Regions from separate parts of the Homo sapiens genome. Here regions 1, 2 and 3 are each linked to region 4. The links come from fine-mapping of genetic effects on gene expression. A gene starts in region 4. Each other region holds a variant in brackets. All regions are shown on one strand. Distances are from middle to middle. Region 1 overlaps RIC1 (RIC1 partner of RAB6A GEF complex). Region 2 overlaps GLDC (glycine decarboxylase). Region 3 overlaps GLDC (glycine decarboxylase). Region 4 holds the start of GLDC (glycine decarboxylase).

The links.
Region 1: its variant is fine-mapped to the expression of GLDC in whole blood (TOPMed, PIP above 0.99).
Region 2: its variant is fine-mapped to the expression of GLDC in whole blood (TOPMed, PIP 0.99).
Region 3: its variant is fine-mapped to the expression of GLDC in lung (TOPMed, PIP above 0.99).

Annotation. Positions count from the first base shown.
Region 1 is chr9:5,695,456-5,700,605 of GRCh38, forward strand. All of the region lies in intron 3 of RIC1 (RIC1 partner of RAB6A GEF complex), which reads left to right. Among named protein-coding and RNA genes, the nearest start is that of INCR1, 68 kb to the left of the region's middle. RefSeq lists an enhancer at 1,727-1,846. The variant A/G (reference allele first, on the strand shown) is at 2,777.
Region 2 is chr9:6,619,780-6,624,929 of GRCh38, forward strand. GLDC (glycine decarboxylase) reads right to left here. Exons shown (of 25, transcript NM_000170.3): 3 at 405-540. Among named protein-coding and RNA genes, the nearest start is that of GLDC, 23 kb to the right of the region's middle. RefSeq lists an enhancer at 3,129-3,924. The variant C/A (reference allele first, on the strand shown) is at 2,587.
Region 3 is chr9:6,597,328-6,602,477 of GRCh38, forward strand. GLDC (glycine decarboxylase) reads right to left here. Exons shown (of 25, transcript NM_000170.3): 8 at 4,782-4,878. Among named protein-coding and RNA genes, the nearest start is that of GLDC, 46 kb to the right of the region's middle. RefSeq lists an enhancer at 1,121-1,360. The variant C/G (reference allele first, on the strand shown) is at 2,478.
Region 4 is chr9:6,643,667-6,648,816 of GRCh38, forward strand. It overlaps GLDC (glycine decarboxylase), which reads right to left and starts at 2,063. Exons shown (of 25, transcript NM_000170.3): 1 at 1,579-2,063; 2 at 948-1,026. The coding sequence starts at 1,833. RefSeq lists enhancers at 1,273-1,830, 2,811-2,920, 2,971-3,070, 4,057-4,612, 4,613-5,150 and silencers at 1,511-1,580, 1,621-1,820, 1,891-2,140.

The DNA.
Region 1 (5,150 bases), 950 kb before region 4:
TATATCCAGTCTAGTATATTCTACCTTGTATGTCATTTCTTTTCCCTCCTCGTAATTCCCAATGACACTAGTTCAGTTTAGGTCTTGTCACTTTTCTCCTGGATTATTATTATATCTTTTTTTTTTTTTTTTTTTGAGACAGAGTCTCGCTCTGTCGCCTGTGCTGGAGTGCAGTGGCGTGATCTTGGCTCCCTGCAATCTCCGCCTTCTGGGTTCAAGCGATTCTCATGTCTCAATCCTGAGTAGCTGGGACTACAGGCATGCACCACCACACCTAGCTAATTTTTGTATTTTTAGTAGAGACGGGGTTTCACTATGTTGGCCAGGATGGTCTTGAACTCCTGACCTCAAGTGATCTGCCTGCCTCGGCCTCCCAAAGTGCTGGGATTTCAGGCGTGAGCCACTGCACCCGGCCTATTATGTCTTCTTAATGTCAGATTCATGTCTAAACCTCACTCACTTACCCCCTGCCAAGCCAAACATGCTATTGCTTTGCTAAACTTTTTTGCAGTTACCATCATCTTTTGTACGTTGTATGAGGTAGAAAACCTTTAATTCTTTGTTTCTTCCTCTGGATTGTTTCTTCACTTTACATATTTGTTCAGTCATCAAATTTTACTGATTGATTAGAGTTTTCCAGTGCCTCTGGAATTCATTTAACTCTATTTTACTCTCATTGGTCTTTTTAGGGGCCCTCATGTCCTCCTCCTTGTCTATTAAAAAAGCTTATTCACTAACTCATTTCTCTTCCCCTAGTCTCTTTCACCTACATAATGAAGTTTATCATTTGCATTGATAACAATTTTTTTTTTTTTCCAAAACGAAGTCCAAGCTCTCTGGCCTGGCATTTAGAACCTACTTTCTCCATATCTTGAACACATCGAACCCACAATTCCTATTTAATGCCTCTATTCCTTTGTTATTTGCTCTATTCAGTATGACTCCCCTGCTATCTTTTTTTATGTAAGAAATTTATCTGAGTTGGTTTTCAAGCTCAGGTCAGACATCTGTTGTACTCTATAAACCTTCTGCCCTCAACTCTCCTATATCCGCCCCTGTACCCAATAAATAACTGATCTGGCATGTGCATTCCCATAGTATGTTTTAAAAATTTACACTACTAATTCATCAATACCTTCTTACTTAAAAAAAAATCCAACAATGAGAGATCTATAAAGATAAAAAGTAAAAAAATGTGAACTTTGCTTTTTTAGATTCTAATCTCATTTCACTCTCCAGTTGTCCTGTATCTCTTGAGTAAATAAATACCTAGGAATAGAATTGCTGGGTCATATCACATGTCTAGTAATTTCAGATTGGATGTTAGATACTGTATTACATTATCCATTGTCTGATTTTTGTCCTTTTCCTTTAAAGAGTATTGAAGGTTGTTTTGGGTGGCAGGTAAGCTGCTTGGAGATCTTACTGATCTTTTGAGGCTTTTTGTATGTCTTTTAGGATGGATTTAACTGTTAAGCTAGCTTAGCCCTTCTGAAGTCCACTGAATGTCCTAGGTCTTTAAGAAGGTCTCTCCATTCTGGCTAGTCAGAACCGAAATGTCTCCCAGTCCTATATGAACTGGGTAGCCAAAAACCCTAGTAGTCATTCTTTGCCTGTATTTGTGGAGTGTCACTATGTATTTGGATAGTATTCAGTAAGACTCGGGAAACCCCTGCAGGTTTCTAGAGCTTTTCTCTGTGTGGCTCCCACATCACTGGTGCTCTGCTTCACAAATAGCTGCTTCTGCTTCTCTGAACTTTAATCTTTTTCTCCTCAACTTAACAAGGCTGCCATACTATGCTTGGTTTCTCTCACTCTACATGATGGACAAAACCTTAAGAGGTTAGATGGTGACTTCTGCCAGAAAACCTGTTTGTTTTCCTTCCCTCATGATATCAGTCCTGTGCTGCCTGCTGTCTCATGTCTGAATATGGTTGGTTGATCTATTTTGTCCAGTTCTCTTGTTTCTGGGCACTAGTTTGGTACCAGGTACTCTATTAGTAGAATAATAAAATGACCATCTGTGTGTCCATCAGTCAGTTTGAACAATTTTCAGTCTTTTTCCACTGGAGTATATTTAAGCACATCCAAGATATCATTATTTCATTTCATCCAAAAATACTTTTTATTATTGTAAGCATTCCAGTAAACAATGATGAATGCAAATGATGAAATATGAGGCCTGGAGTTTTAGGAAAAGAAATCGTTCTGAGCCTTTCCAGAATTATGGTTGGAGAACTAAAGCCTCTTAGTCCCAGAATTTACATAGGACTGCCAGAACTTTCTAGATCAAGCCTTGCACATTTCAGAATCATCTCAAATGGATTCATCCTCATTTATTGTATGCCTGCTATCTGTAAAACACTTGCTATACACTGCTACTGAAGATGCTAATGAATAATTGTTTAAAGTTAATGGCAATATAAAATAACAGATTGCCAGGTAAATATCTTGAAAAGTCATAATAGCATTTCAGGGTAAAGTGATTAGTTGTCAAGGGAAGTTTTGTAGATAAGGAGACTTGAGTTCTATACTTGGGAGAGAAGTCAGGACTTAGGTAAGTTATGTTGCAAGGAAAAACACTATAATTAATTGCATTCTTGAAGTTTCTGTTCCCCCACACCCCAAATCTATTAGGTTATTTGCCACATTATTCTTTTCTTTAGCTGGCACTTAAAGCATTTGGTATCTCCTGCACAGAAGAATTTGCTCAAAGAAATGGCTGTTGAATTTGTGAATCAGTTTTCTGTATCACCTGATCTAGCCCTCAAAGCAT[A/G]CTTGACATGCTTTAAAAGCAGTCTTCTTTTCTTTTAAGACTTCTGTGTAGTTTTTATGCTACACTTGGTATTGTGGTTTGATTTTTGGTTTTTACCAATTTGATGAGAAATTACTCCCCGCTCAGTGTCCTGGGAAGTTTGACTAGTGGTTGACCCATCCCATAGAAACATTTTATTTTTTTCATGGCCCTTTAAGGGCCACTCATTAACATGAATGCCTTATCATTCATTGGAATAGAAAACTGGGAGGCTTTACTTTTAGTTACAAAAGTTAATGTATGGAAAATACATTAATAAAACCGGCTTAGCTTCATTTTTCCTACTTTCTTGTGATATTTTTCTTAGACTTGCTATTGATACCTCAGATAAATATCCAGCAGTTTAGAGATGTGGAAAAAAATATGGCAGTTGGAATCAGAGAGGCCCAGGTTCCAGTTCAGATTCTGCTTTTTCCCAAGACTTTGGAAAAGCCATTTTCTAAAGTTGCTTTCTGTGCTGTGTGTCTATAAAATGAGAAAAATGAGTGATTAGATTCTTAATAAGTTGCAACTGGTATTGTTGTCTAGGTTGCCTTCTGAATTATGTAAATATAATGTGCCTCCATTGCATATTTATGACAATTTATAAGTGTTTAAAAAAGAAGGGGATTCTAGTTCATTAACTGCGAGGTTTTAGAGTGAACTAGAATTTGAAGAATGACAAAACTTTAAGAGGTTGCCAAAAAATACAGGTGTACTTGTTCAAAAGCAAGTCTCAGATTGAGTCATGTATCAAATGTAAGCAATAACAGACTTGACTCCTCTGGGGAACTTAGGCAGAGTATTCATTTATACAATACTTGAAAATTCCAAGTATTAACAAAGATAGCTTCTTTAATATAGCGAGAAACTCCTTACATCATATCCTTGAATAATGTCATAACATCGATGAGGGAAAAAAATTGATCCCTGGCCAGGGCCACTGTCAATATGGAATTTTCATATTCTCCCTATGTCTGTGTAGTACTGTAGTTTCCTCCCACATCCCAAAGATGTACGCTTTGGGTGAATCAGCATCTGCATGGCCCCAGTCTGAGCGAGTGTGGGGTATGTGTGTGAGTGCGCCCTCCAATGGAATGACATCTGGTCCAAGGTGGGCTTCAGCTTTGGCCCCAAGCTGCTGGGATGGGCCGTGGCCACCTGCAATTCTGAACTGGAATTAGTGGGTAAATGTTTTTATTCATCTTTCTTAAATGTATGTATAGCTTACATTTATTTCAATGTCTTTTTTTTTTTTTCAAAAAACTGTTTGTATATTGCATATATAACTAAAATATAAAAGCAACATTTTATAAAACTTTCTAGAGAGACAAATTCCACACAAGTGGTAAGGGCAACCTAGTGTCTCTAGATTTGTTCTGTTTCATAAATTGGATTTTAACAAATCCTATGTAAATCAATTTTTGTAAATAAAATGTAATTGTTGGATTTTTCACATGTTAGATTTTTGCAATAATCTGAGATTTACAACACTTTCTGATGTATGTTCACTCTGATTCTGAAACTAAATTATATTATTGGATTTCATATACAGTATTAAAATTAGTGGTGGTTTACCAAGATTAAACTTTAAAGCATATCTGAAAGTTATCTATCTGTAAATAAGACAAATTGTCTACAGAATTAGTTTTATATAGTCAGTGATGTGTAAACCTCTTGGCTTTAAGAACCACAACAACTTTGAATGCATTAAGAAAACTGTCACACAATTGATCCGAAACTGCATTAAGAAAAAAATTCCTACTTTTTTTTTTTTTTTTCCTTTCACTGGTTTCTTGTCTCTCAGGGTCATCGTTCCATGGGCTGTCCCCACCCAACCCCACCAAGTTTCCTTCATTGACATTTCTGTTCTTTCCTTCACAAATTCTGCCATGGCTTGTAGGGAGAGCACCTGATTAACCAATACTGAGCTGGGAATGACCGACACTTCTTAGCTAGTTCTATAAATTTTGTTAGTTTGTTTTTGTTAGCCCCAGTTAATCTCAAATAGATAGAAATTTAGAACATTATTGAGGGGATTATAATGGGATTAATCCCTTTTGCCTATCCCATAATGTATTCAGCTGTTTCATTTCTTTTTGTTCATTTGTGATTTTGTGTTTTCAAAGTAAAAAATCTGAATATTTATTTAGAGTTTACTTTGGATTAAAAATATTCAATTTATTAGAGCTTCAAAATAATAACTGTAGCTCAAACTTTTAAGTTCCATCTACAAATCTTAAAAATCTATTCGTAAATCTAGCAAATTTCAACACTTTTAGAGGGGAATCTTACAAATTAAATTCTCTTACGTATATTAATGTATATTTATAAATATGCCTTATAAATATATAAT
Region 2 (5,150 bases), 24 kb before region 4:
TCCCAGACTCCACCAATGACTCAATGAGATAGCTCAGAAGTAGCCTATGTCCCAGGGTCTCCAAGGAGGAGTAAAGGCCTGAATCTGCCCACCTGCAGGTTTCACATCTTACTCAAATACAGCACAGAAATTAAGCTGCAGAAGAGGAAGAGATGACCAGATCCACAATTTAGCATCCTAGTAGATTTTATGGGACTGGAAGTGGGAAGAAACTTCTATTTCCTCAACATTTGAGCAAGAACATTTCTCGATCCAGAGAAACCCGGTAGGTTCCCGGACATTGGAGACAGCACTAGGAGGTGGGTGTCAGTGTGGAGGCTCTGAGACTGCAAGGGGACAGATGGAGGATGGAGAGAATTATGCAAATCACAGTCATCCTGTTCCTGAACTGAGAAATACATTACCATCCTGAGTTCTCCAGTAAGTTCCGCAAAATCGTCTGTGGCACTGAGCAGTTATAATAGCCCATGCCAATATACGATCTCCAGATCTGGTTTTTGCTTGAAATGGCATGCAGAGTTGCAAGGATTTCATTTTCACCTAATTGTGGGAAAAAGAGAAATGTTACAGACAGATGTCTCAGAAAAGAGCTCTAATTACAGTTTAAATCCCTCATTTTGTTTGAGTATTTATGACAGAATAACTATATGGAAAATGTAAGAGTCATCCATCCAACCAACACTAAGTACTGTATGCGACATCTCAAAAAAAAAAAAAGTCCCCAAACAACACTCAATTTCTCCTCAAGGTTGGCCCCCCCATCACTGTTTTGACTGTTCCTTATTCGGTTCTGTTTGCTAGAACTGCCCATTTTAACACTTGCCTCATTCCAGGCTTTTTCTGTTCCCTTTCTATTTCTGCTGTATATACGCTAAATAAAAATTCTGTCTTACTCCCAGTAAAATACTGTGTTTTACCTTCTAAACTGCCTCATACTCTCTGGAAGTAGGCACAGCTTCAGTCTAATTAACACATAATCTACATTTTCTCTAAAATTGTTCTACTCAGTTGCACATTCCTCCTTTGTGTCACTGAAAGGGCAACTTATAAAAAGGCCATCACTCAACAATAGAAAATATCAGTTGTAATCAAAGACCCTCATGCAGGGCTGTGAACAGTGGCTCACACCTGCAATCCCAGCACTTTGAGAGGCTGAGGTGGGCGGATCACCTGAGGTCAGGAGTTCAAGACAAGCCTGGGCAAGGCGGTGAAACCCCGTCTCTACCAAAAAAGGCAAAAAATTAGCCAGGCATGGTGGTTCACACCTGTGGTCCCAGATTCTTGGGAGGCTGAGGTGGAAGGATCACATGAGCCTGGGAGGCAGAGATTGTAGTGAGCTAAGATGGCGCCGCTGCACTCAAACCTGAGTGACAGAGTGAGACCCCCATCTCAAACAAAAACAAAAGCAAAAAAACACACCCTTATGCAGTTTCTACCAGCATTCTCATGAAGGCACTTTGGTTATTAAGAAGTATAAATGTACTTGGATGCAGGTGGGACCCTTTCTCGGGTCATTCATATAATCACAAAATAATAATAGCATTTGACATTTATTGAACATTATTCCACCAGGAATTGTACCATATGCTTTTCGCACAGCCTAGGGTACTGAGGATTGAAGACGGTCACTTGGCTGAGGTCACACGACTTTAAATTAAAGGATTACTAATCCAATCTCACACTTTAACTCACTGGACTAAGTTGAGAGCTGCTACATGGACAGCTCTTATACTGAAGGGTCCTTTTTTGTTTTTTTGAGAGGGAGTCTTGCTCTGTCACCCAGGCTGGAGTGCAGTGGCTCGATCTTGGCTCACTGCAACCTCCACCTCCCAGGTTCAAGCGATTCTTCTGCCTCAGCCTCCTGAGTAGCTGGGACTACAGTCGCACATCACCACACCTGGCTAATTTTTGTATTTTTAGTAGAGATGGGGTTTCACCATATTGGCTAGGCTGGTCTCGAACTTCTGACTTCGTGATCCGCCCACCTCAGCCTCCCAAAGTGCTGGGATTACAGGCGTGAGCCACCGCGCCCTGCCACTGAAGGGTACTTTTTAGATAGAAATGACATCATTTGGTTCTTTCTTTACCTCTCTGCATAGAGATAGATCATGCTACTAAAATTTAACTGGGATTTAACTACTTAGGCAAATGGCTGTCTTCTTTAAGATCTTCTTGGGGACTCAGTCACTTAACCCTGGGAATTGATTATTTTATTTTTCCTCTATCAGAGAAAAACGTAGGTAAAGCAAAACCTAAGACAGCAAACTGGCAAGGAAGACACTTAACATTGTTTTAACCCTATTGAACTCTATCTGAATATTATTTGCATCAATCTTTATCCTCAAGTAAAATACTTTCACCCTCCACCACACACACACAGACACACACACACACACACACACACACACACACTCCGCACTCCACATGCTTTCCCAGGAAATAAATTCACAAGAGATATGGTCCCCCTCCCCCTCCCCCTCTCCCCACGGTCTCCCTCTCCCTCTTTCCACGGGCCGAAGCTGGACTGTGCTGCTGCCATCTTGGCTCACTGCAACCTCCCTGCCTGATTCTCCTGCCTCAGCCTGA[C/A]GAGTGCCTGCGATTGCAGGCACGCGCCGCCACGCCTGACTGGTTTTCGTATTTTTTTGGTGGAGACGGGGTTTCCCTGTGTTGGCCGGGCTGGTCTCCAGCTCCTAACCGCGAGTGATCCGCCAGCCTCGGCCTCCCGAGGTGCCGGGATTGCAGACAGAGTCTCGTTCACTCAGTGCTCAATGGTGCCCAGGCTGGAGTGCAGTGGCGTGATCTCGGCTCGCTACAACCTCCACCTCCCAGCCGCCTGCCTTGGCCTCCCAAAGTGCCGAGATGGCAGCCTCTGCCCGGCCGCCACCCCGTCTGGGAAGTGAGGAGCCTCTCTGCCTGGCCGCCCATGGTCTGGGATGTGAGGAGCCCCTCTGCCTGGCTGCCCAGTCTGGAAAGTGAGGAGCGTCTCTGCCCGGCCGCCATCCCACCTAGGAAGTGAGGAGCGCCTCTTCCGGGCCGCCATCCCATCTAGGAAGTGAGGAGCGTCTCTGCCCGGCCGCCCATCGTCTGAGATGTGGGGAGCGCCTCTGCCCCGCCGCCCGGTCTGGGATGTGAGGAGCACCTCTGCCTGGCCGCGACCCCGTCTGGGAGGTGAGGAACGTCTCCGCCCGGCAGCCACCCCGTCCGGGAGGGAGGTGGGGGGTCAGCCCCTGCCCGGCCAGCCGCCCTGTCTGGGAGGTGAGGGGCGCCTCTGCCCCGCCGCCCCTACGGGGAAGTGAGGAGCCCCTCTGTCCCGCCACCACCCCGTCTGGGAGGTGTGCCCAACAGCTCATTGAGAACGGGCCATGATGACAATGGCGGTTTTGTGGAATAGAAAAGGGGGAAAGGTGGGGAAAAGATTGAGAAATCGGATGGTTGCTGTGTCTGTGTAGAAAGAAGTAGACATGGGAGACTTTTCATTTTGTTCTGTACTAAGAAAAATTCTTCTGCCTTGGGATCCTGTTGATCTATGACCTTACCCCCAACCCTGTGCTCTCTGAAACATGTGCTGTGTCCACTCAGGGTTAAATGGATTAAGGGCGGTGCAAGATGTGCTTTGTTAAACAGATGCTTGAAGGCAGCATGCTCGTTAAGAGTCATCACCACTCCGTAATCTCAAGTACCCAGGGACACAAACACTGCGGAAGGCCGCAGGGTCCTCTGCCTAGGAAAACCAGAGACCTTTGTTCACTTGTTTATCTGCTGACCTTCCCTCCACTATTGTCCTATGACCCTGCCAAATCCCCCTCTGAGAGAAACACCCAAGAATGATCAATAAAAAAAAAAATAAAAAAAGAGAGAGATATGGTACTTTGCCACAGTAGAGTAAGGAAAGAGAGTCTTGAAGTTATTAGTTTCATGAGTAATATAATCTAACTACCTTATGGAAGATGATCTTGCCTTCTTCCATTGAAAGTTTAGGAAATAAGTAAAAATGCAATAAACCCACATCTGAGAAGATAGGCAAGGACAACATCCCTAGGAACAATCATGCAAAAAGTCCAATCACCTCCCAAATAATCTTCTTAGGGGCAGAATGATTCAGACGCCCAGTAGGAGGAAAGATTAATTAGCAGTGCCTTGTAGGCGAGTCCGGCTTCAATTATGATCCTGTGCAGGGGGGACAGGTCCCTGTTCTGCGTTGGTCCAGCTCTCCAATGACAACAGTCTGTGAAGGGCTCTGTCTGTCAAACTGAGTTTAGCCTTTGGAAATAAAGCTGGATAGTATGATTCTTTTTACAATACAGTAAGATAATTCTACTGATGGTGTGGAAAGGTCACTGAGGGGAGACCCCGGCCCAGGGAGATACAGTAAGAGGCCAGCACTATAGTCCAGGAGGGAGATGGATAAGAGGAGTGTTACAAGTTGAATTGTGTTCCCAAAAATGATGCTTTGAAATCCTAACCCCATGGTACCTCTGAATATAACCTTACTTGAAAATAGGGTCTCCACTGATGTAACCAAGTTAAAATGAGATCATGCTGGATTAGGGTCAGCCGTAATCCAATGATTGGTGTCCTTATAAGAAGAGCAAAATTGGGACACACAGACACACATGCAAGAAGAATGCCATGTGATGATGGCAGCAGAGACTGGAGCAATGTATCCACAGGCCAAGGAACCTGGGAGAGAGGCAGGGAACTGATTCTCCTTCAGAGCTTCCAGAAATGAGCCAACCCTGCCAACATCTTGATTTCTGACTACGGAACTGGGAGTGAACAGGTTCCTGTTGTTTTAAGCCACCTAGTTTGTGGTACTATATTACATGGCAGCCATAGGAAACTAATTAAAAAAACTGTATCAGTCATTTTTAGGAGACACGATAATACTCTTGGGCCCAGCTGGCCAGTTAAAAAAGGCTCAGGTTGGTGGGGCACGGTGGCTTACACCTGTAATCCCAGCACTTTGGGAGGCTGAGGCAGGAGGATCACTTGAGGTCAAGGAGTTCAAGACCAGCCTGGCCAACATGGTGAAACCCTGTCTCTACTAAAAACACAAAAATTAGCTGGGCCTGGTGGCATGTGCCTGTAATCCCAGCTACTTGGGAGGCTGACACAGGAGAATCGCTTGAACCAGGGAGGCGGAGATTGCA
Region 3 (5,150 bases), 46 kb before region 4:
TAAAAACCATTGAGCTGTATACTTGCAATTGGTGAAACTTACGGTGAGTTACATCTCAATAAAAAAAGCTAATAAAGTGTAAATTATTCTTTACTACACCTGACTTTAGAAAAGCCAACAAGGCTGGATGCAGTGGCTCACACCAGTGATCCCAACACTTTGGGAGGCTGAGGCAGGAGGATCGCTTGAGGCCTGGAGATCAATACTAGCCTGGGCAACAAAGTAAGACTCCCATCTCTATTTTAAAAAGATTTTTATATTAAAAATAAGAAAAGCCAATGAAAGAGCTGCTCATTGTGGTAGAAGCTAAGAAATAAGAGAATATATGGCCGGGCATGGTGGCTAACGCCTGTAATCCCAGCACTTTGGGAGGCTGAGGCAGGTGGATCATGAGGTCAGGAGATCGAGACCATCCTGGCTAACATGGTGAAACCCTGTATCTACTAAAAATACAATAAATTAGCCAGGCATGGTAGCAGACACCTGTAGTCCCAGCTACACAGGAGGCTGAGGCAGGAGAATGGCGTGAACCCGGGAGGCAGAGCTTCAGTGAGCGAGATGGCGCTACTGCACTCCAGCCTGGGCGATGGAGCGAGACTCGTCTCCAAAAAAAAAAGAAATAAGAGAATATAAAGAACAGAACATAATGAAAATTCAGACATCTGTAGTAATGCCACAAATTTATAGAAAAAATTGTTTCTTTTCCTTTTTGTTTTGTAGAGGTGGGGTCTGATTCTGTCACCCAGGTTGGAGTGCAGTGGTGTGATTGCAGCTCACTGCAGCCTGGACCTCCCCAGCTCAAGCACTCCTACCACCTCAGTCTACTGAGTAGCTGGGATACTGGTGTGTACCACAACACCTGGCTAATTTTTGTACTTTTTTTATATAGACAGGAGTCTCACTATGTTGCCTGGGATGGATTTAAACTGCTGAACTCAAGTAATCCTCCTGCCTTGGCCTCCTAAAGTGTTGAGATTACAGGTGTGAGCCACCGCACCCTGTTTTTTCAGTTTTGTTTTAGAATGGGGCCTGCTGAGCCAGAATAGGCTCAGAGAGACTCCCTATAGAAAAATTTATTTAAAAAAGAATCATTAACACACTTTCAGAGATTAAAAAAGAGTCATGCCCCATCCACGATGCGAAACTAAGAGTGGACTCCCCCACCCACCCCAGTGACAAGAGAGAAGAGCAAGAGTGAGAAGAATGTGGAACAGCTGCTACAACAGAAGGCGGGGGTCAAAGACCTACAGCACAAAAGGAACAACTCAAAAGACACCAGTCATCTCCTAACAAAACAGGGAGACTTGCATGCTCACAAAGAGTGAAACTGGAGTTATGAGTAATTCTTGTATGCAATCAACTATGAAAAGGCACATATGCAGTGAAATAGACAGTGAAGAGTTAGAAGATCATCAGAATAAGAGGATGAAAATCAGACAAGCTGGAGTATGGCCATCTCCAGGGCAAACATTTTAACAATTGCTGGAAAAGATACAGACCTTTCAACCCAAGTTAAATAATAAATTATCAGCTATACATGAACTGGAAGAAATTAAGCAACAGGAACATAAGGCCGGGCACAATGGCTCATGCCTGTAATCCCAGCACTTTGGGAGGCCAAGGCGGGCGGATCACCTGAGGTCAGGAGTTCGAGACCAGCCTGGCCAGCATGGTGAAACCCCATCTCTACTAAAAATACAAAAAATATTAGCCAGGCATGGTCGTGGGTGCCTGTAATCCCAGCTACTCAGGAGGCTGAGGCAGGAGTATCGCTTGAACCCGGAAGACGGAGGTTGCAGTGAGCCGACATCACGCCATTGCACTCCAGCCTGGGCAACAAGAGAAAGACTCCGTCTCAAAAAAAAAAAAAAGAAAGAAACAGGAACATAACTGGTTCACTGCAGACAGCCCAAATTCACCTGGAAAATGAACCTAGAGGCAGAAAACTGAGGCCCTAAATGGACTTATGATCAGACGGAAACCTGGAGGAACCTGAGGAGAAACAGCAAGACAGGAGCAGTCAGCTGCACCGAAAGGGAAAACGTAAGCAGAGAATTCAACAAATGGAGGGTAAGCTACAGAAAGTGAGGCCACCATATAAAGATCACCATGTGGCCAGGCATGGCGGCTTATGCCTGTAATCCCAGCACTTTGGGAGGCCGAGGTGGGCAGATCATGAGATCAGGAGTTCGAGACCAGCCTGACCAACATGGTGAAACCCTGTCTCTACTAAAAATAGAAAAATTAGTTGGGCATGGTGGCAGGCGCCTGTAATCCCAGCTACTCAGGAGGCTGAGGCAAGAGAATCGCTGGAAACTGGAAGGCAGAGGTTGCAGTGAGCTGAGATTGGGCCGCTGCATGCCAGCCTGGGTGACAGAGCAAGACTCCATCTCAAAAAAAAAAAAAACAACCAAAAAAACAAATAAATAAATAAAGATCAGCTTGCTGTTCAACAGAGGAAAAGCCTGTGCCAACCA[C/G]CTTTCCTTCCTATCATACTGGAAGAGCTCATATTTGAAAAGAGGTGGCACCTTCCTGAGGCAAAACATAATACAAAAGGACCAACTGAGGAAATGGCTCCAAAGACCCGTGGCTGCAGAACCAACTATAAGAAGATCTTATTGCCCACTGCCTTCCTGGAGAAGCTTTTCAGAGGTGGTTCTAGACGCCAAAGCCCTGAGACGAAAGAGCACTCTACCTCCCATTGAAGCACCTGTGACATCTCTCTCTGACACTTCATGGAAGAGATGCAATTACAGTGGCCAGGCACGGTGGCTCATGCCTATAATCCTATCACTATGGGAGGCCAAGATAGGATCACTTGAGCTCAGGAATTTGAGACCAACCTGAGCAACAAAGTGAGACCTCGCCTCTACAAAACATTTTTTTGAAAATTAGCTGGGCGTGGTGGAATGTACCCATAGTCCCAGCTACTTAGGAGGCTGAGACCGGAGAATAATTTGAGCCCTGGAGGTTGAAGGTTGAGGCTGCAGTGAGCTATGGCCATGCCACTGCACTCCAGAATGGACAACAGAGCAAGAATCTGTCTCAAGAAAAAAAAAAAAAAAGAAGCCAGGTGCCATGGCTCACACCTACAATCCCAAAATTTTGGGAGGCCCAGGCAGGACCATCACTTGAGGTCAGGCGTTTGAGACCAGCCTGGCCAACATGATGAAACCTGCCTCTACTAAAAATACAAAAATTATCTGGGTGTGGTGGCCTGTAATTCCAGCTCTTTAGGAGGCTGAGGCACAAGAATCACTTGAACCCAGGAGGCAGAGGTTGCAGTGAGCCAAGATTGCGCCACCCCATTCCAACCTGGGTGACGCAGGAACAGGACTCTATCTCAAAGAAGAAAAAAAAAGAAGAAGAAAAAAAAAAAGAGATGCACTTAGAATGGATCCTGTGCTCAGGAGTGGGCCTCCAACTGATCCTAGGGTTTGGCTGGGTTTCACAAACACTTCGACCTAAGCCCTGGAGCAACTTCAAGGAGCAGAACCCAGAACCCTGGTCAGAACCCAGGAAGCTCTTCCTGTTTTATCCCATCCTTTTAAAGAATGCCAGACATGGCCAGGTGCAGTGGCTCATGCTTGTAATCCCAACACTTTGGGAGGCCGAGGTGGGTGGATCATGAGGTCAGGAGTTCAAGACCAACCTGGCCAAGATGGTGAAACCCCGTCTCTACTAAAAATGCAAAAACTAGCCTGGCGCTGTGGCAGGCGCCTGTAATCCCAGTTACTCAGGAGGCTGAGGCAGGAGAATTGCTTGAAACCGGGCAGCAGAGGTTGCAGTGAGCTGAGATTGCGCCACTGCACTCCAGCCTGGGCGACAGAGTAAAACTCTGTCTCGAAAAAACAAAAAAAAGAATGCCAGTCATAATCTCCCAGTAAGAGTGCCTCATGACTACCACCATCCCCTCAAGCACAGTCATCACAAATGCCCTTGCTTTGCCTTCCTCAACCCATTCCTGGAGAGGCTCCTTCTCAGTCCTAAGAGAGGGTGTCTCAACTGCCACCCATAACAAACCTGGCCCAACGCCAAGAATACTAGAGACCCTGATATCCATCTTTCTATTTACATATATTTTAAGTCTGTATATAAAAGTGAAGACTGGCCTTTTTTGTCCTTTCTTACGCTTTGCCTGTTCAGGATCTGAAGATGTGATTATGGGTAAAATGAAACAAATAATGCTTTTTATTTTTTTTAGTATTAAAACATGTATGGTGAAGAGAAAGCATAGGCAAATGGTGTACATATAAAGAACACCAGTAAAACACAGTGTCTTTTTCTTTAACTTTTTTTGTGGGGGCAGGAGTTGGGGACAGAGTCTCCCTCTGTCACTCAGGCTGGAGTGCAGTGGCATAATCATGGCTCACTGCAGCCTCAACCTCCCAGATTCTGGTGATCCTCCCACCTGAGCCTCCCTAGCACCTGGGACTACAGGAGCATACCACCACTGACGGCTAATTTATTTTATTTTATTTTTCATAGAGATGGTGTTTCGCCATGTCGCCCAGGCAGGTTTCCAACTCCTGGGCTCCAGCAATCTGCCTGCCTTGGCCTCACAAGGTGCTGGGATTACAGGCATGAGCCACCGTACCCAGCCAATACTGTATTTTGGTTCTCATAAGACAATGAGCCTTCTACACCAATAAGATCTTGCCATTTCTGGTGTGCTCACTGCTCAGGAGGTGGTGAATAAATGAACAAATGAATGAATGAATGAGTAGCTCATTTCTGTGTATCGTAAGGCATTCAGTAGTCAGGTCAGACGTGTGATTTACCTGAGCTGTACAGATGTTGCTGGTAGCCTTGTCTCTCCGAATGTGTTGCTCCCTGGTTTGAAGAGCAAGACGATACACTTCTTTCCCAGTGGCATCTCTACACCAAGAATAAGGCATCCAGTTAGCACAGATAATCACAGCACTGGGAGATGCTATAAATAGAATTACTTCTTTCCTTCCCAGCTTGAAGTGAATTCAGCAAATGCACTTGGGTGCAAATTTATAAAGAAACAATTTCTAAACGTTCCTCATCTAAACATGATTACTGATTTTTTTTTTTTTTTTTGAGACGGAGTTTCGCTCTTTCGCCCAGGCTGGAGTGCAATGGCGTGATCTCGGCTCACTGCAACCTCTGCCTTCTGGTTTCAA
Region 4 (5,150 bases):
AATTCTAAGAAAGTCTATGACTAAACTGACCTTTCTTAAACAAATGTAAATCTTATTTGTGTGTTTTTCTAGAAAAACCATTCGGGGTAGGGCACAGTGACTCGTGCCTGTAATCCCAGCATTTTGGGAGGCCGAGGCAGACGGATTGCCTGAGGTCAGGAGTTCGACACCAGCCTGGCCAACATGAAGAAACCCTGTCTCTAATAAAAATATAAAAATGAGCCTGGTGTGGTGGTGCGCCCCTGTAATCCCAGCTAGTCAAGAGGCTGAGGCAGGAGAATTGCTTGAACCAGGGAGGCGGAGGTTGCAGTGAGCCGAGATCAAGCCACAGCACTCCAGCCTGGGCGACAGAGATTCTGTCTCAAAAAAAAAAAAAAAAAAAAACGAAAAAAAAAAGAAAAGAAAAGAAAAACCATTCGGACTCGAAAAGTACTGCTGTCTTTCAGTTGGTAAATAATAAAATTTGGACGTGAGGTAAGAAAACAATTGGAAGATACTGCGATCTAAAGAAGCCTGGGGGAGGGAGGCGAGATGTCTGGTCACTTCCCCAGTTGCACGACCTTAGGCAATTCCTAGATCCTTTGAGTCTATCCGGGTCTGCGCAGGTAATGACACCTCTCAACCCAAAGTATGAGAGCACCCTGGCCGGTGAGAGGGTGCCTGGGAAGTGGGGAATCTGCTACAAAACGCAGGGGAAGCTCGCGGGGGCCCTAGGATAAAGACCAAGAACCGCACAACACCGACTCTCTCCTAACACAAAACTGTCTGCTCCGAGAACCAAATATCCCACCTTCCCGCGGCTCCGGAGGTACCCGCCACTGTTTTATTTTAATCCACACATTCCCAGTCCTGAGCAATCCTTACCCCAGAGCTCGATTTTCAGGGAACCACAAAAGACAAATAGGCCAGAATAATCTAAGTCCAAGGGAGCCCTCCCGGCCACTTACAAACAGGGTCTTCCATTTTCAAGGGTCTTTTCAAACGGATGTTGGCAGGGACCGTCTTCTCGATCAATTCATCAATGCTCTAAAATTAAAACGCAAGGCAGAGGAAAGTGCCTCTGAGTTAAAAGAGTCACCTCTGTGTTTTGCGACTACAAAGCCTTGTGGGAACCTCATTGAAATCGCCTAATTAGGGTTCTTTTTAAAAGAAAAGGAAAACTCTGAGCAAGCCAGAATGATTTGGAGGAAAGAAAATCGTGAAGTGGGGTGGAGATTCCGCCACTCGGGGTTGGATTTCAGTTGCAACCGGAGCTAACCGGTAAGCCCACTCTTAATCAGGGGGTCTTCCTCCTCTTGCAAAGTTTAGGTCCATCCACAGGGCCACTTGGGCTGGGGGTGGTTTAAAAATGTACACTTTTGAGGCACGAAGACTGGGTGCAGGAGAAAGTAAGCTGTTAAGAAGTAAGAAGGCACGAGGACCAAAGGCACGAATTTGCTTCCACGCCACGGCCCGGGACCCAGGGTGCGGGGACCACGCGGAGCGCAGCAGAGCTCAGGGTAGGAGCCGGGAGGCCGCGCAGGCAGAGCCCGGGCAGGGCGGAGGGGAGGCCGCGGAGGGCCGGGTGGAGGTCCTTACCGCCAGCCCCAAGGTCTGCAGCATCTCTCTCTGGTCTTTGTCCCCAGGGCCGATGTGCCTCCGAGCGAAGTCGTCGTGTCTGGGCAGAAGGCGCTCCAGGAGGCGCGAGGCCCCAGCCGCGGCGCTGTCCCCGCCGCCACTGCTGCTGTCCCGGCTCCGCGGCGCCCAGCACGGCCCCGATCCCCCAGCCAGGCGGCGGCCGCCCCCGACCCCGCGGCCCAGGCGCAGCCCCCACGCCCTGGCACAGGACTGCATGGCCGCGGCCACCGTCCCCTGCCCCGGCCCGCAAGGGTCAGCCGCGCTCTTGGCCCCTCTCCTGGCCTCGGTCCCCCGGGTGGCGGCTGCGCCCGGCCTGGAGCCCCTTTCGCTGGACAGTCGGCCGGACAGATGGATGGACGCTCGCGGGCAATGAATGGGCGCTGCGCTCAACCAAGACACTCGCGCAAAGTTGTGGCTCCACCCAAGGCACCTGCTCCGCACACTTTAAGCGGCGCCCTGGAGGCGGGAGGTGGGTTGGGGCCAGGAAGCCCTTGGCCAATGAAAGTAGACAGAGGGGGAGGGGGCGGAACAGTTCCCGCCCCCGCCCCCTCTTCCTACCCTCTTCCCAGCCCTTCCGTGGAGTCCCGCTTCCCCTGGACCGGAGGCTGCCATCTCCAGTCCTACCCACTCCGACGCTGGCTGGTGCCGGGGGCCGGGACGCTCCGTACGCCGCCCGCCAGGGTGTGGAGCCGCACTGGGGCAAGATCAGGTGGGACAGCCCAAAGACTCCGGGCCAAGTTCCTGGGGGACTCGGCGGAGATGGAAGATGATTCTCGAAGCTCTCCATTTCCTTAATTTTGAGGTATCTTTCTCTGTCACATTTCATCTCAGGGAAATTAATATGGGCAGATGGCGGTTCTTTTATCTTTGCGGGAGCGTGATAAAGTTACTCAACCTCTCAGAGCTTCAGTTTTCTCATCTCAACAGAGCTGGATGGGATTTTAAAAAGAGATTATATGTACATGGAAAGCACTTGAACAGTAGATTTGAACACCCTCTCTATATTTCTTTTCTTTTCTTTCTTCCTTCTTTCTCCTCCTCCTCCTCCTCCTCCTTCTTCTCACTCTCTCTCTTTCTCTCTCTTCCCCCCCACCACATGTAACGCTATGGCTCACGCCTGTAATCGCAACACTTTCGGAAACCGACGCGGTAGGATAGCTTGAGCCCAGGAGTTCGAGACCAGCTTGGGCAGCATTGTGAAACCCTGTCTCTACAAAAAATACAAAAATTAGTGGGGCGTGGTTGCGTGCTTCTGAAGTCCCAGCTACTCTGGAGGCTGAGGTGGGAGGATTGCTTGAGTCAGGGAGTTTCAGGCTGCAGTGAGATGTGATCGCACCACTGCACTCCAGCGTGGGCCACAGAACGAGACTCAGGAAAAAAAAAAAAAAAAGAACTGTGTGTGTGTGTGTATATGTTTTTTTAAATATATGTACTGTATATACATATACGTGTGTGTGTAAAACTACAAAGGATATTTTGTTGTTGTTTTTGAGACGGAATCTCGCTCTGTCGCCCTGGCTGGAGTGCAGTGGCGCGATCTTGGCTCACTGCAACCTCCACCTCCCGGGTTCAAGCGATTGTCCTGCCTCAGGCTCCTGAGTAGCTGGGACTACAGGCACGTGCCACCACGGCCGGCCATTTTTTATTTTTATTTTTAGTAGAGACGGGGTTTCACCGTTTTAGGCAGGATGGTCTCGATCTCCTGACCTCGTGATCCGTCATTACAGGCGTGAGCCACTGCGCCCAGCAAAAGTACAAAGGATATTAAGATAGACATTGTTCACTGTCGTCTTACTTTGAAAGTTAGCCATCTAGAACTGGATTTTTTGTAAATGTACCATCTCCAGCTGTCTCATGACAGTTTTAGCAAGAGAATGAACTTTTAAAATTCCAGTTGTTCTAATATGGGGAAGAGAGGACAGAAGTAATCAGAACATTACTTGTACTTAGACTAGGGGAAAATAAAACCTGTTCTCTTTCTTGCTTATCTGCTAAGTTTCCTCCTCCAATCACCCTTAACAGATTCTGGGCTCCGTACCCAGGAGGCACAGACTATCCAGAGAGGCAGGAAAGTAGAGATGGAAAAGAGGGCAGGAAAATACACCACAAAGAACAGTAGGTAAAATGTCTGTATGGCAGACGGAGGCGGGTGGTGAGCTAGGACGGCTGGGCTGAATGTCTCCGAAAAGTTTTTCGGCCATTTGGAATTGAAATTACAACCTTCATAAAAGTTGGGAGATCTCCTCAGTGCCAGATGGTGGGGGTTGTGGGGAAGGATTGGAGGGAGGAGGTAATCTGCATTTATTCCTATTCCTGTCTATGTTGTTTCTATGTATCAGAGGGACTGGAAGCCAGGGAACAATAATTCCCAGATCCCTTTGGCTCCGTGGTGATGGATGTTATTTGCCTTCTGCCAAAAAAAAACATGTATATATACACACATATATGTATATGAGAATTGGGGCCGGGTGCGGTGGCTCACTCCTGTAATCCCAGCACTTTGGGAGGCCGAGGCGGGCAGGTCACTTGAGGACAGGAGTTCAAGACCAGCTTGGCCAAGATGGCGAAACTCAATCTCTACTACAAATATGAAAAAAAATTTAGCCAAGTTTGGTGGGCGTGCTTGTAGTCCTAGCTACTCAGGAGGCTAAGGCATGAGAATCACTTGAACCTGGGAAACAGAGGTTGCAGTGAGCGGAGAGCGCACCACTGCACTCCAACCTGGGTGATAGAGCAAGACTCTGCCTAAAAAAAAAAAAAGAGAGAGAGAGAGAATTGGGAAATGGAACAAAGGTAAAAACTGTTTTCTTATTTTCTGACTGCAGCAGACAGATGCATGGACCACTGCAGACATGACATGCTTCCTTACCAGCACCCCATCTTGAGGTAGCTGGGAAGCTGTATCCACCAATGGGAATGTCCTGCAGTTCCCCAGCAGGAATTTCTGTGTACTAGACTAGAGCTTCAGTGGTTGACCTGAAGATAGCGTTGGTATTCCCTGGTTTTTGCTCTTCCAGTTCTTCCAGTGGTTTTGTATGCACCCATTCCTGACATTTAATTCTCCTCTGCTTGAAATGCATTGAGTGTTTTTTGTTTATTTGTCTGTGTGATGTTGTGAAATACATATCTGGTATTCATCCCATTTCCTGGCCTGCAACTCCTAAAGTCTTGGGAATCTCCAGACTCCTGCCTTTTTGTATGCTAATGTGACTAACAGCTTCAGAATAGGGCTGGTCACTGGAAAGACAAAGACATAATGGGAGTTGAGACTTTCAGCCCCACCCTCAACTTCTCAGTAGGGCAGAGGGTCAATGATCAATGCTTAATCAATCATGCCTTCCTAATAAAGCCTCTATAAAAACCCAAGAGCCGGACGTGGTGGCTCATGCCTGTAATCCCAGCACTTTGGGAGGCCAAGGCTGGCGGATCACTTGACGTCAGGAGATTGAGACCAGCCTGGCCAACAGGGTGAAATCCCATCTCTACTAAAAATACAAAAATTGGCCGGGCGCGGTGGCTCACGCCTGTAATCC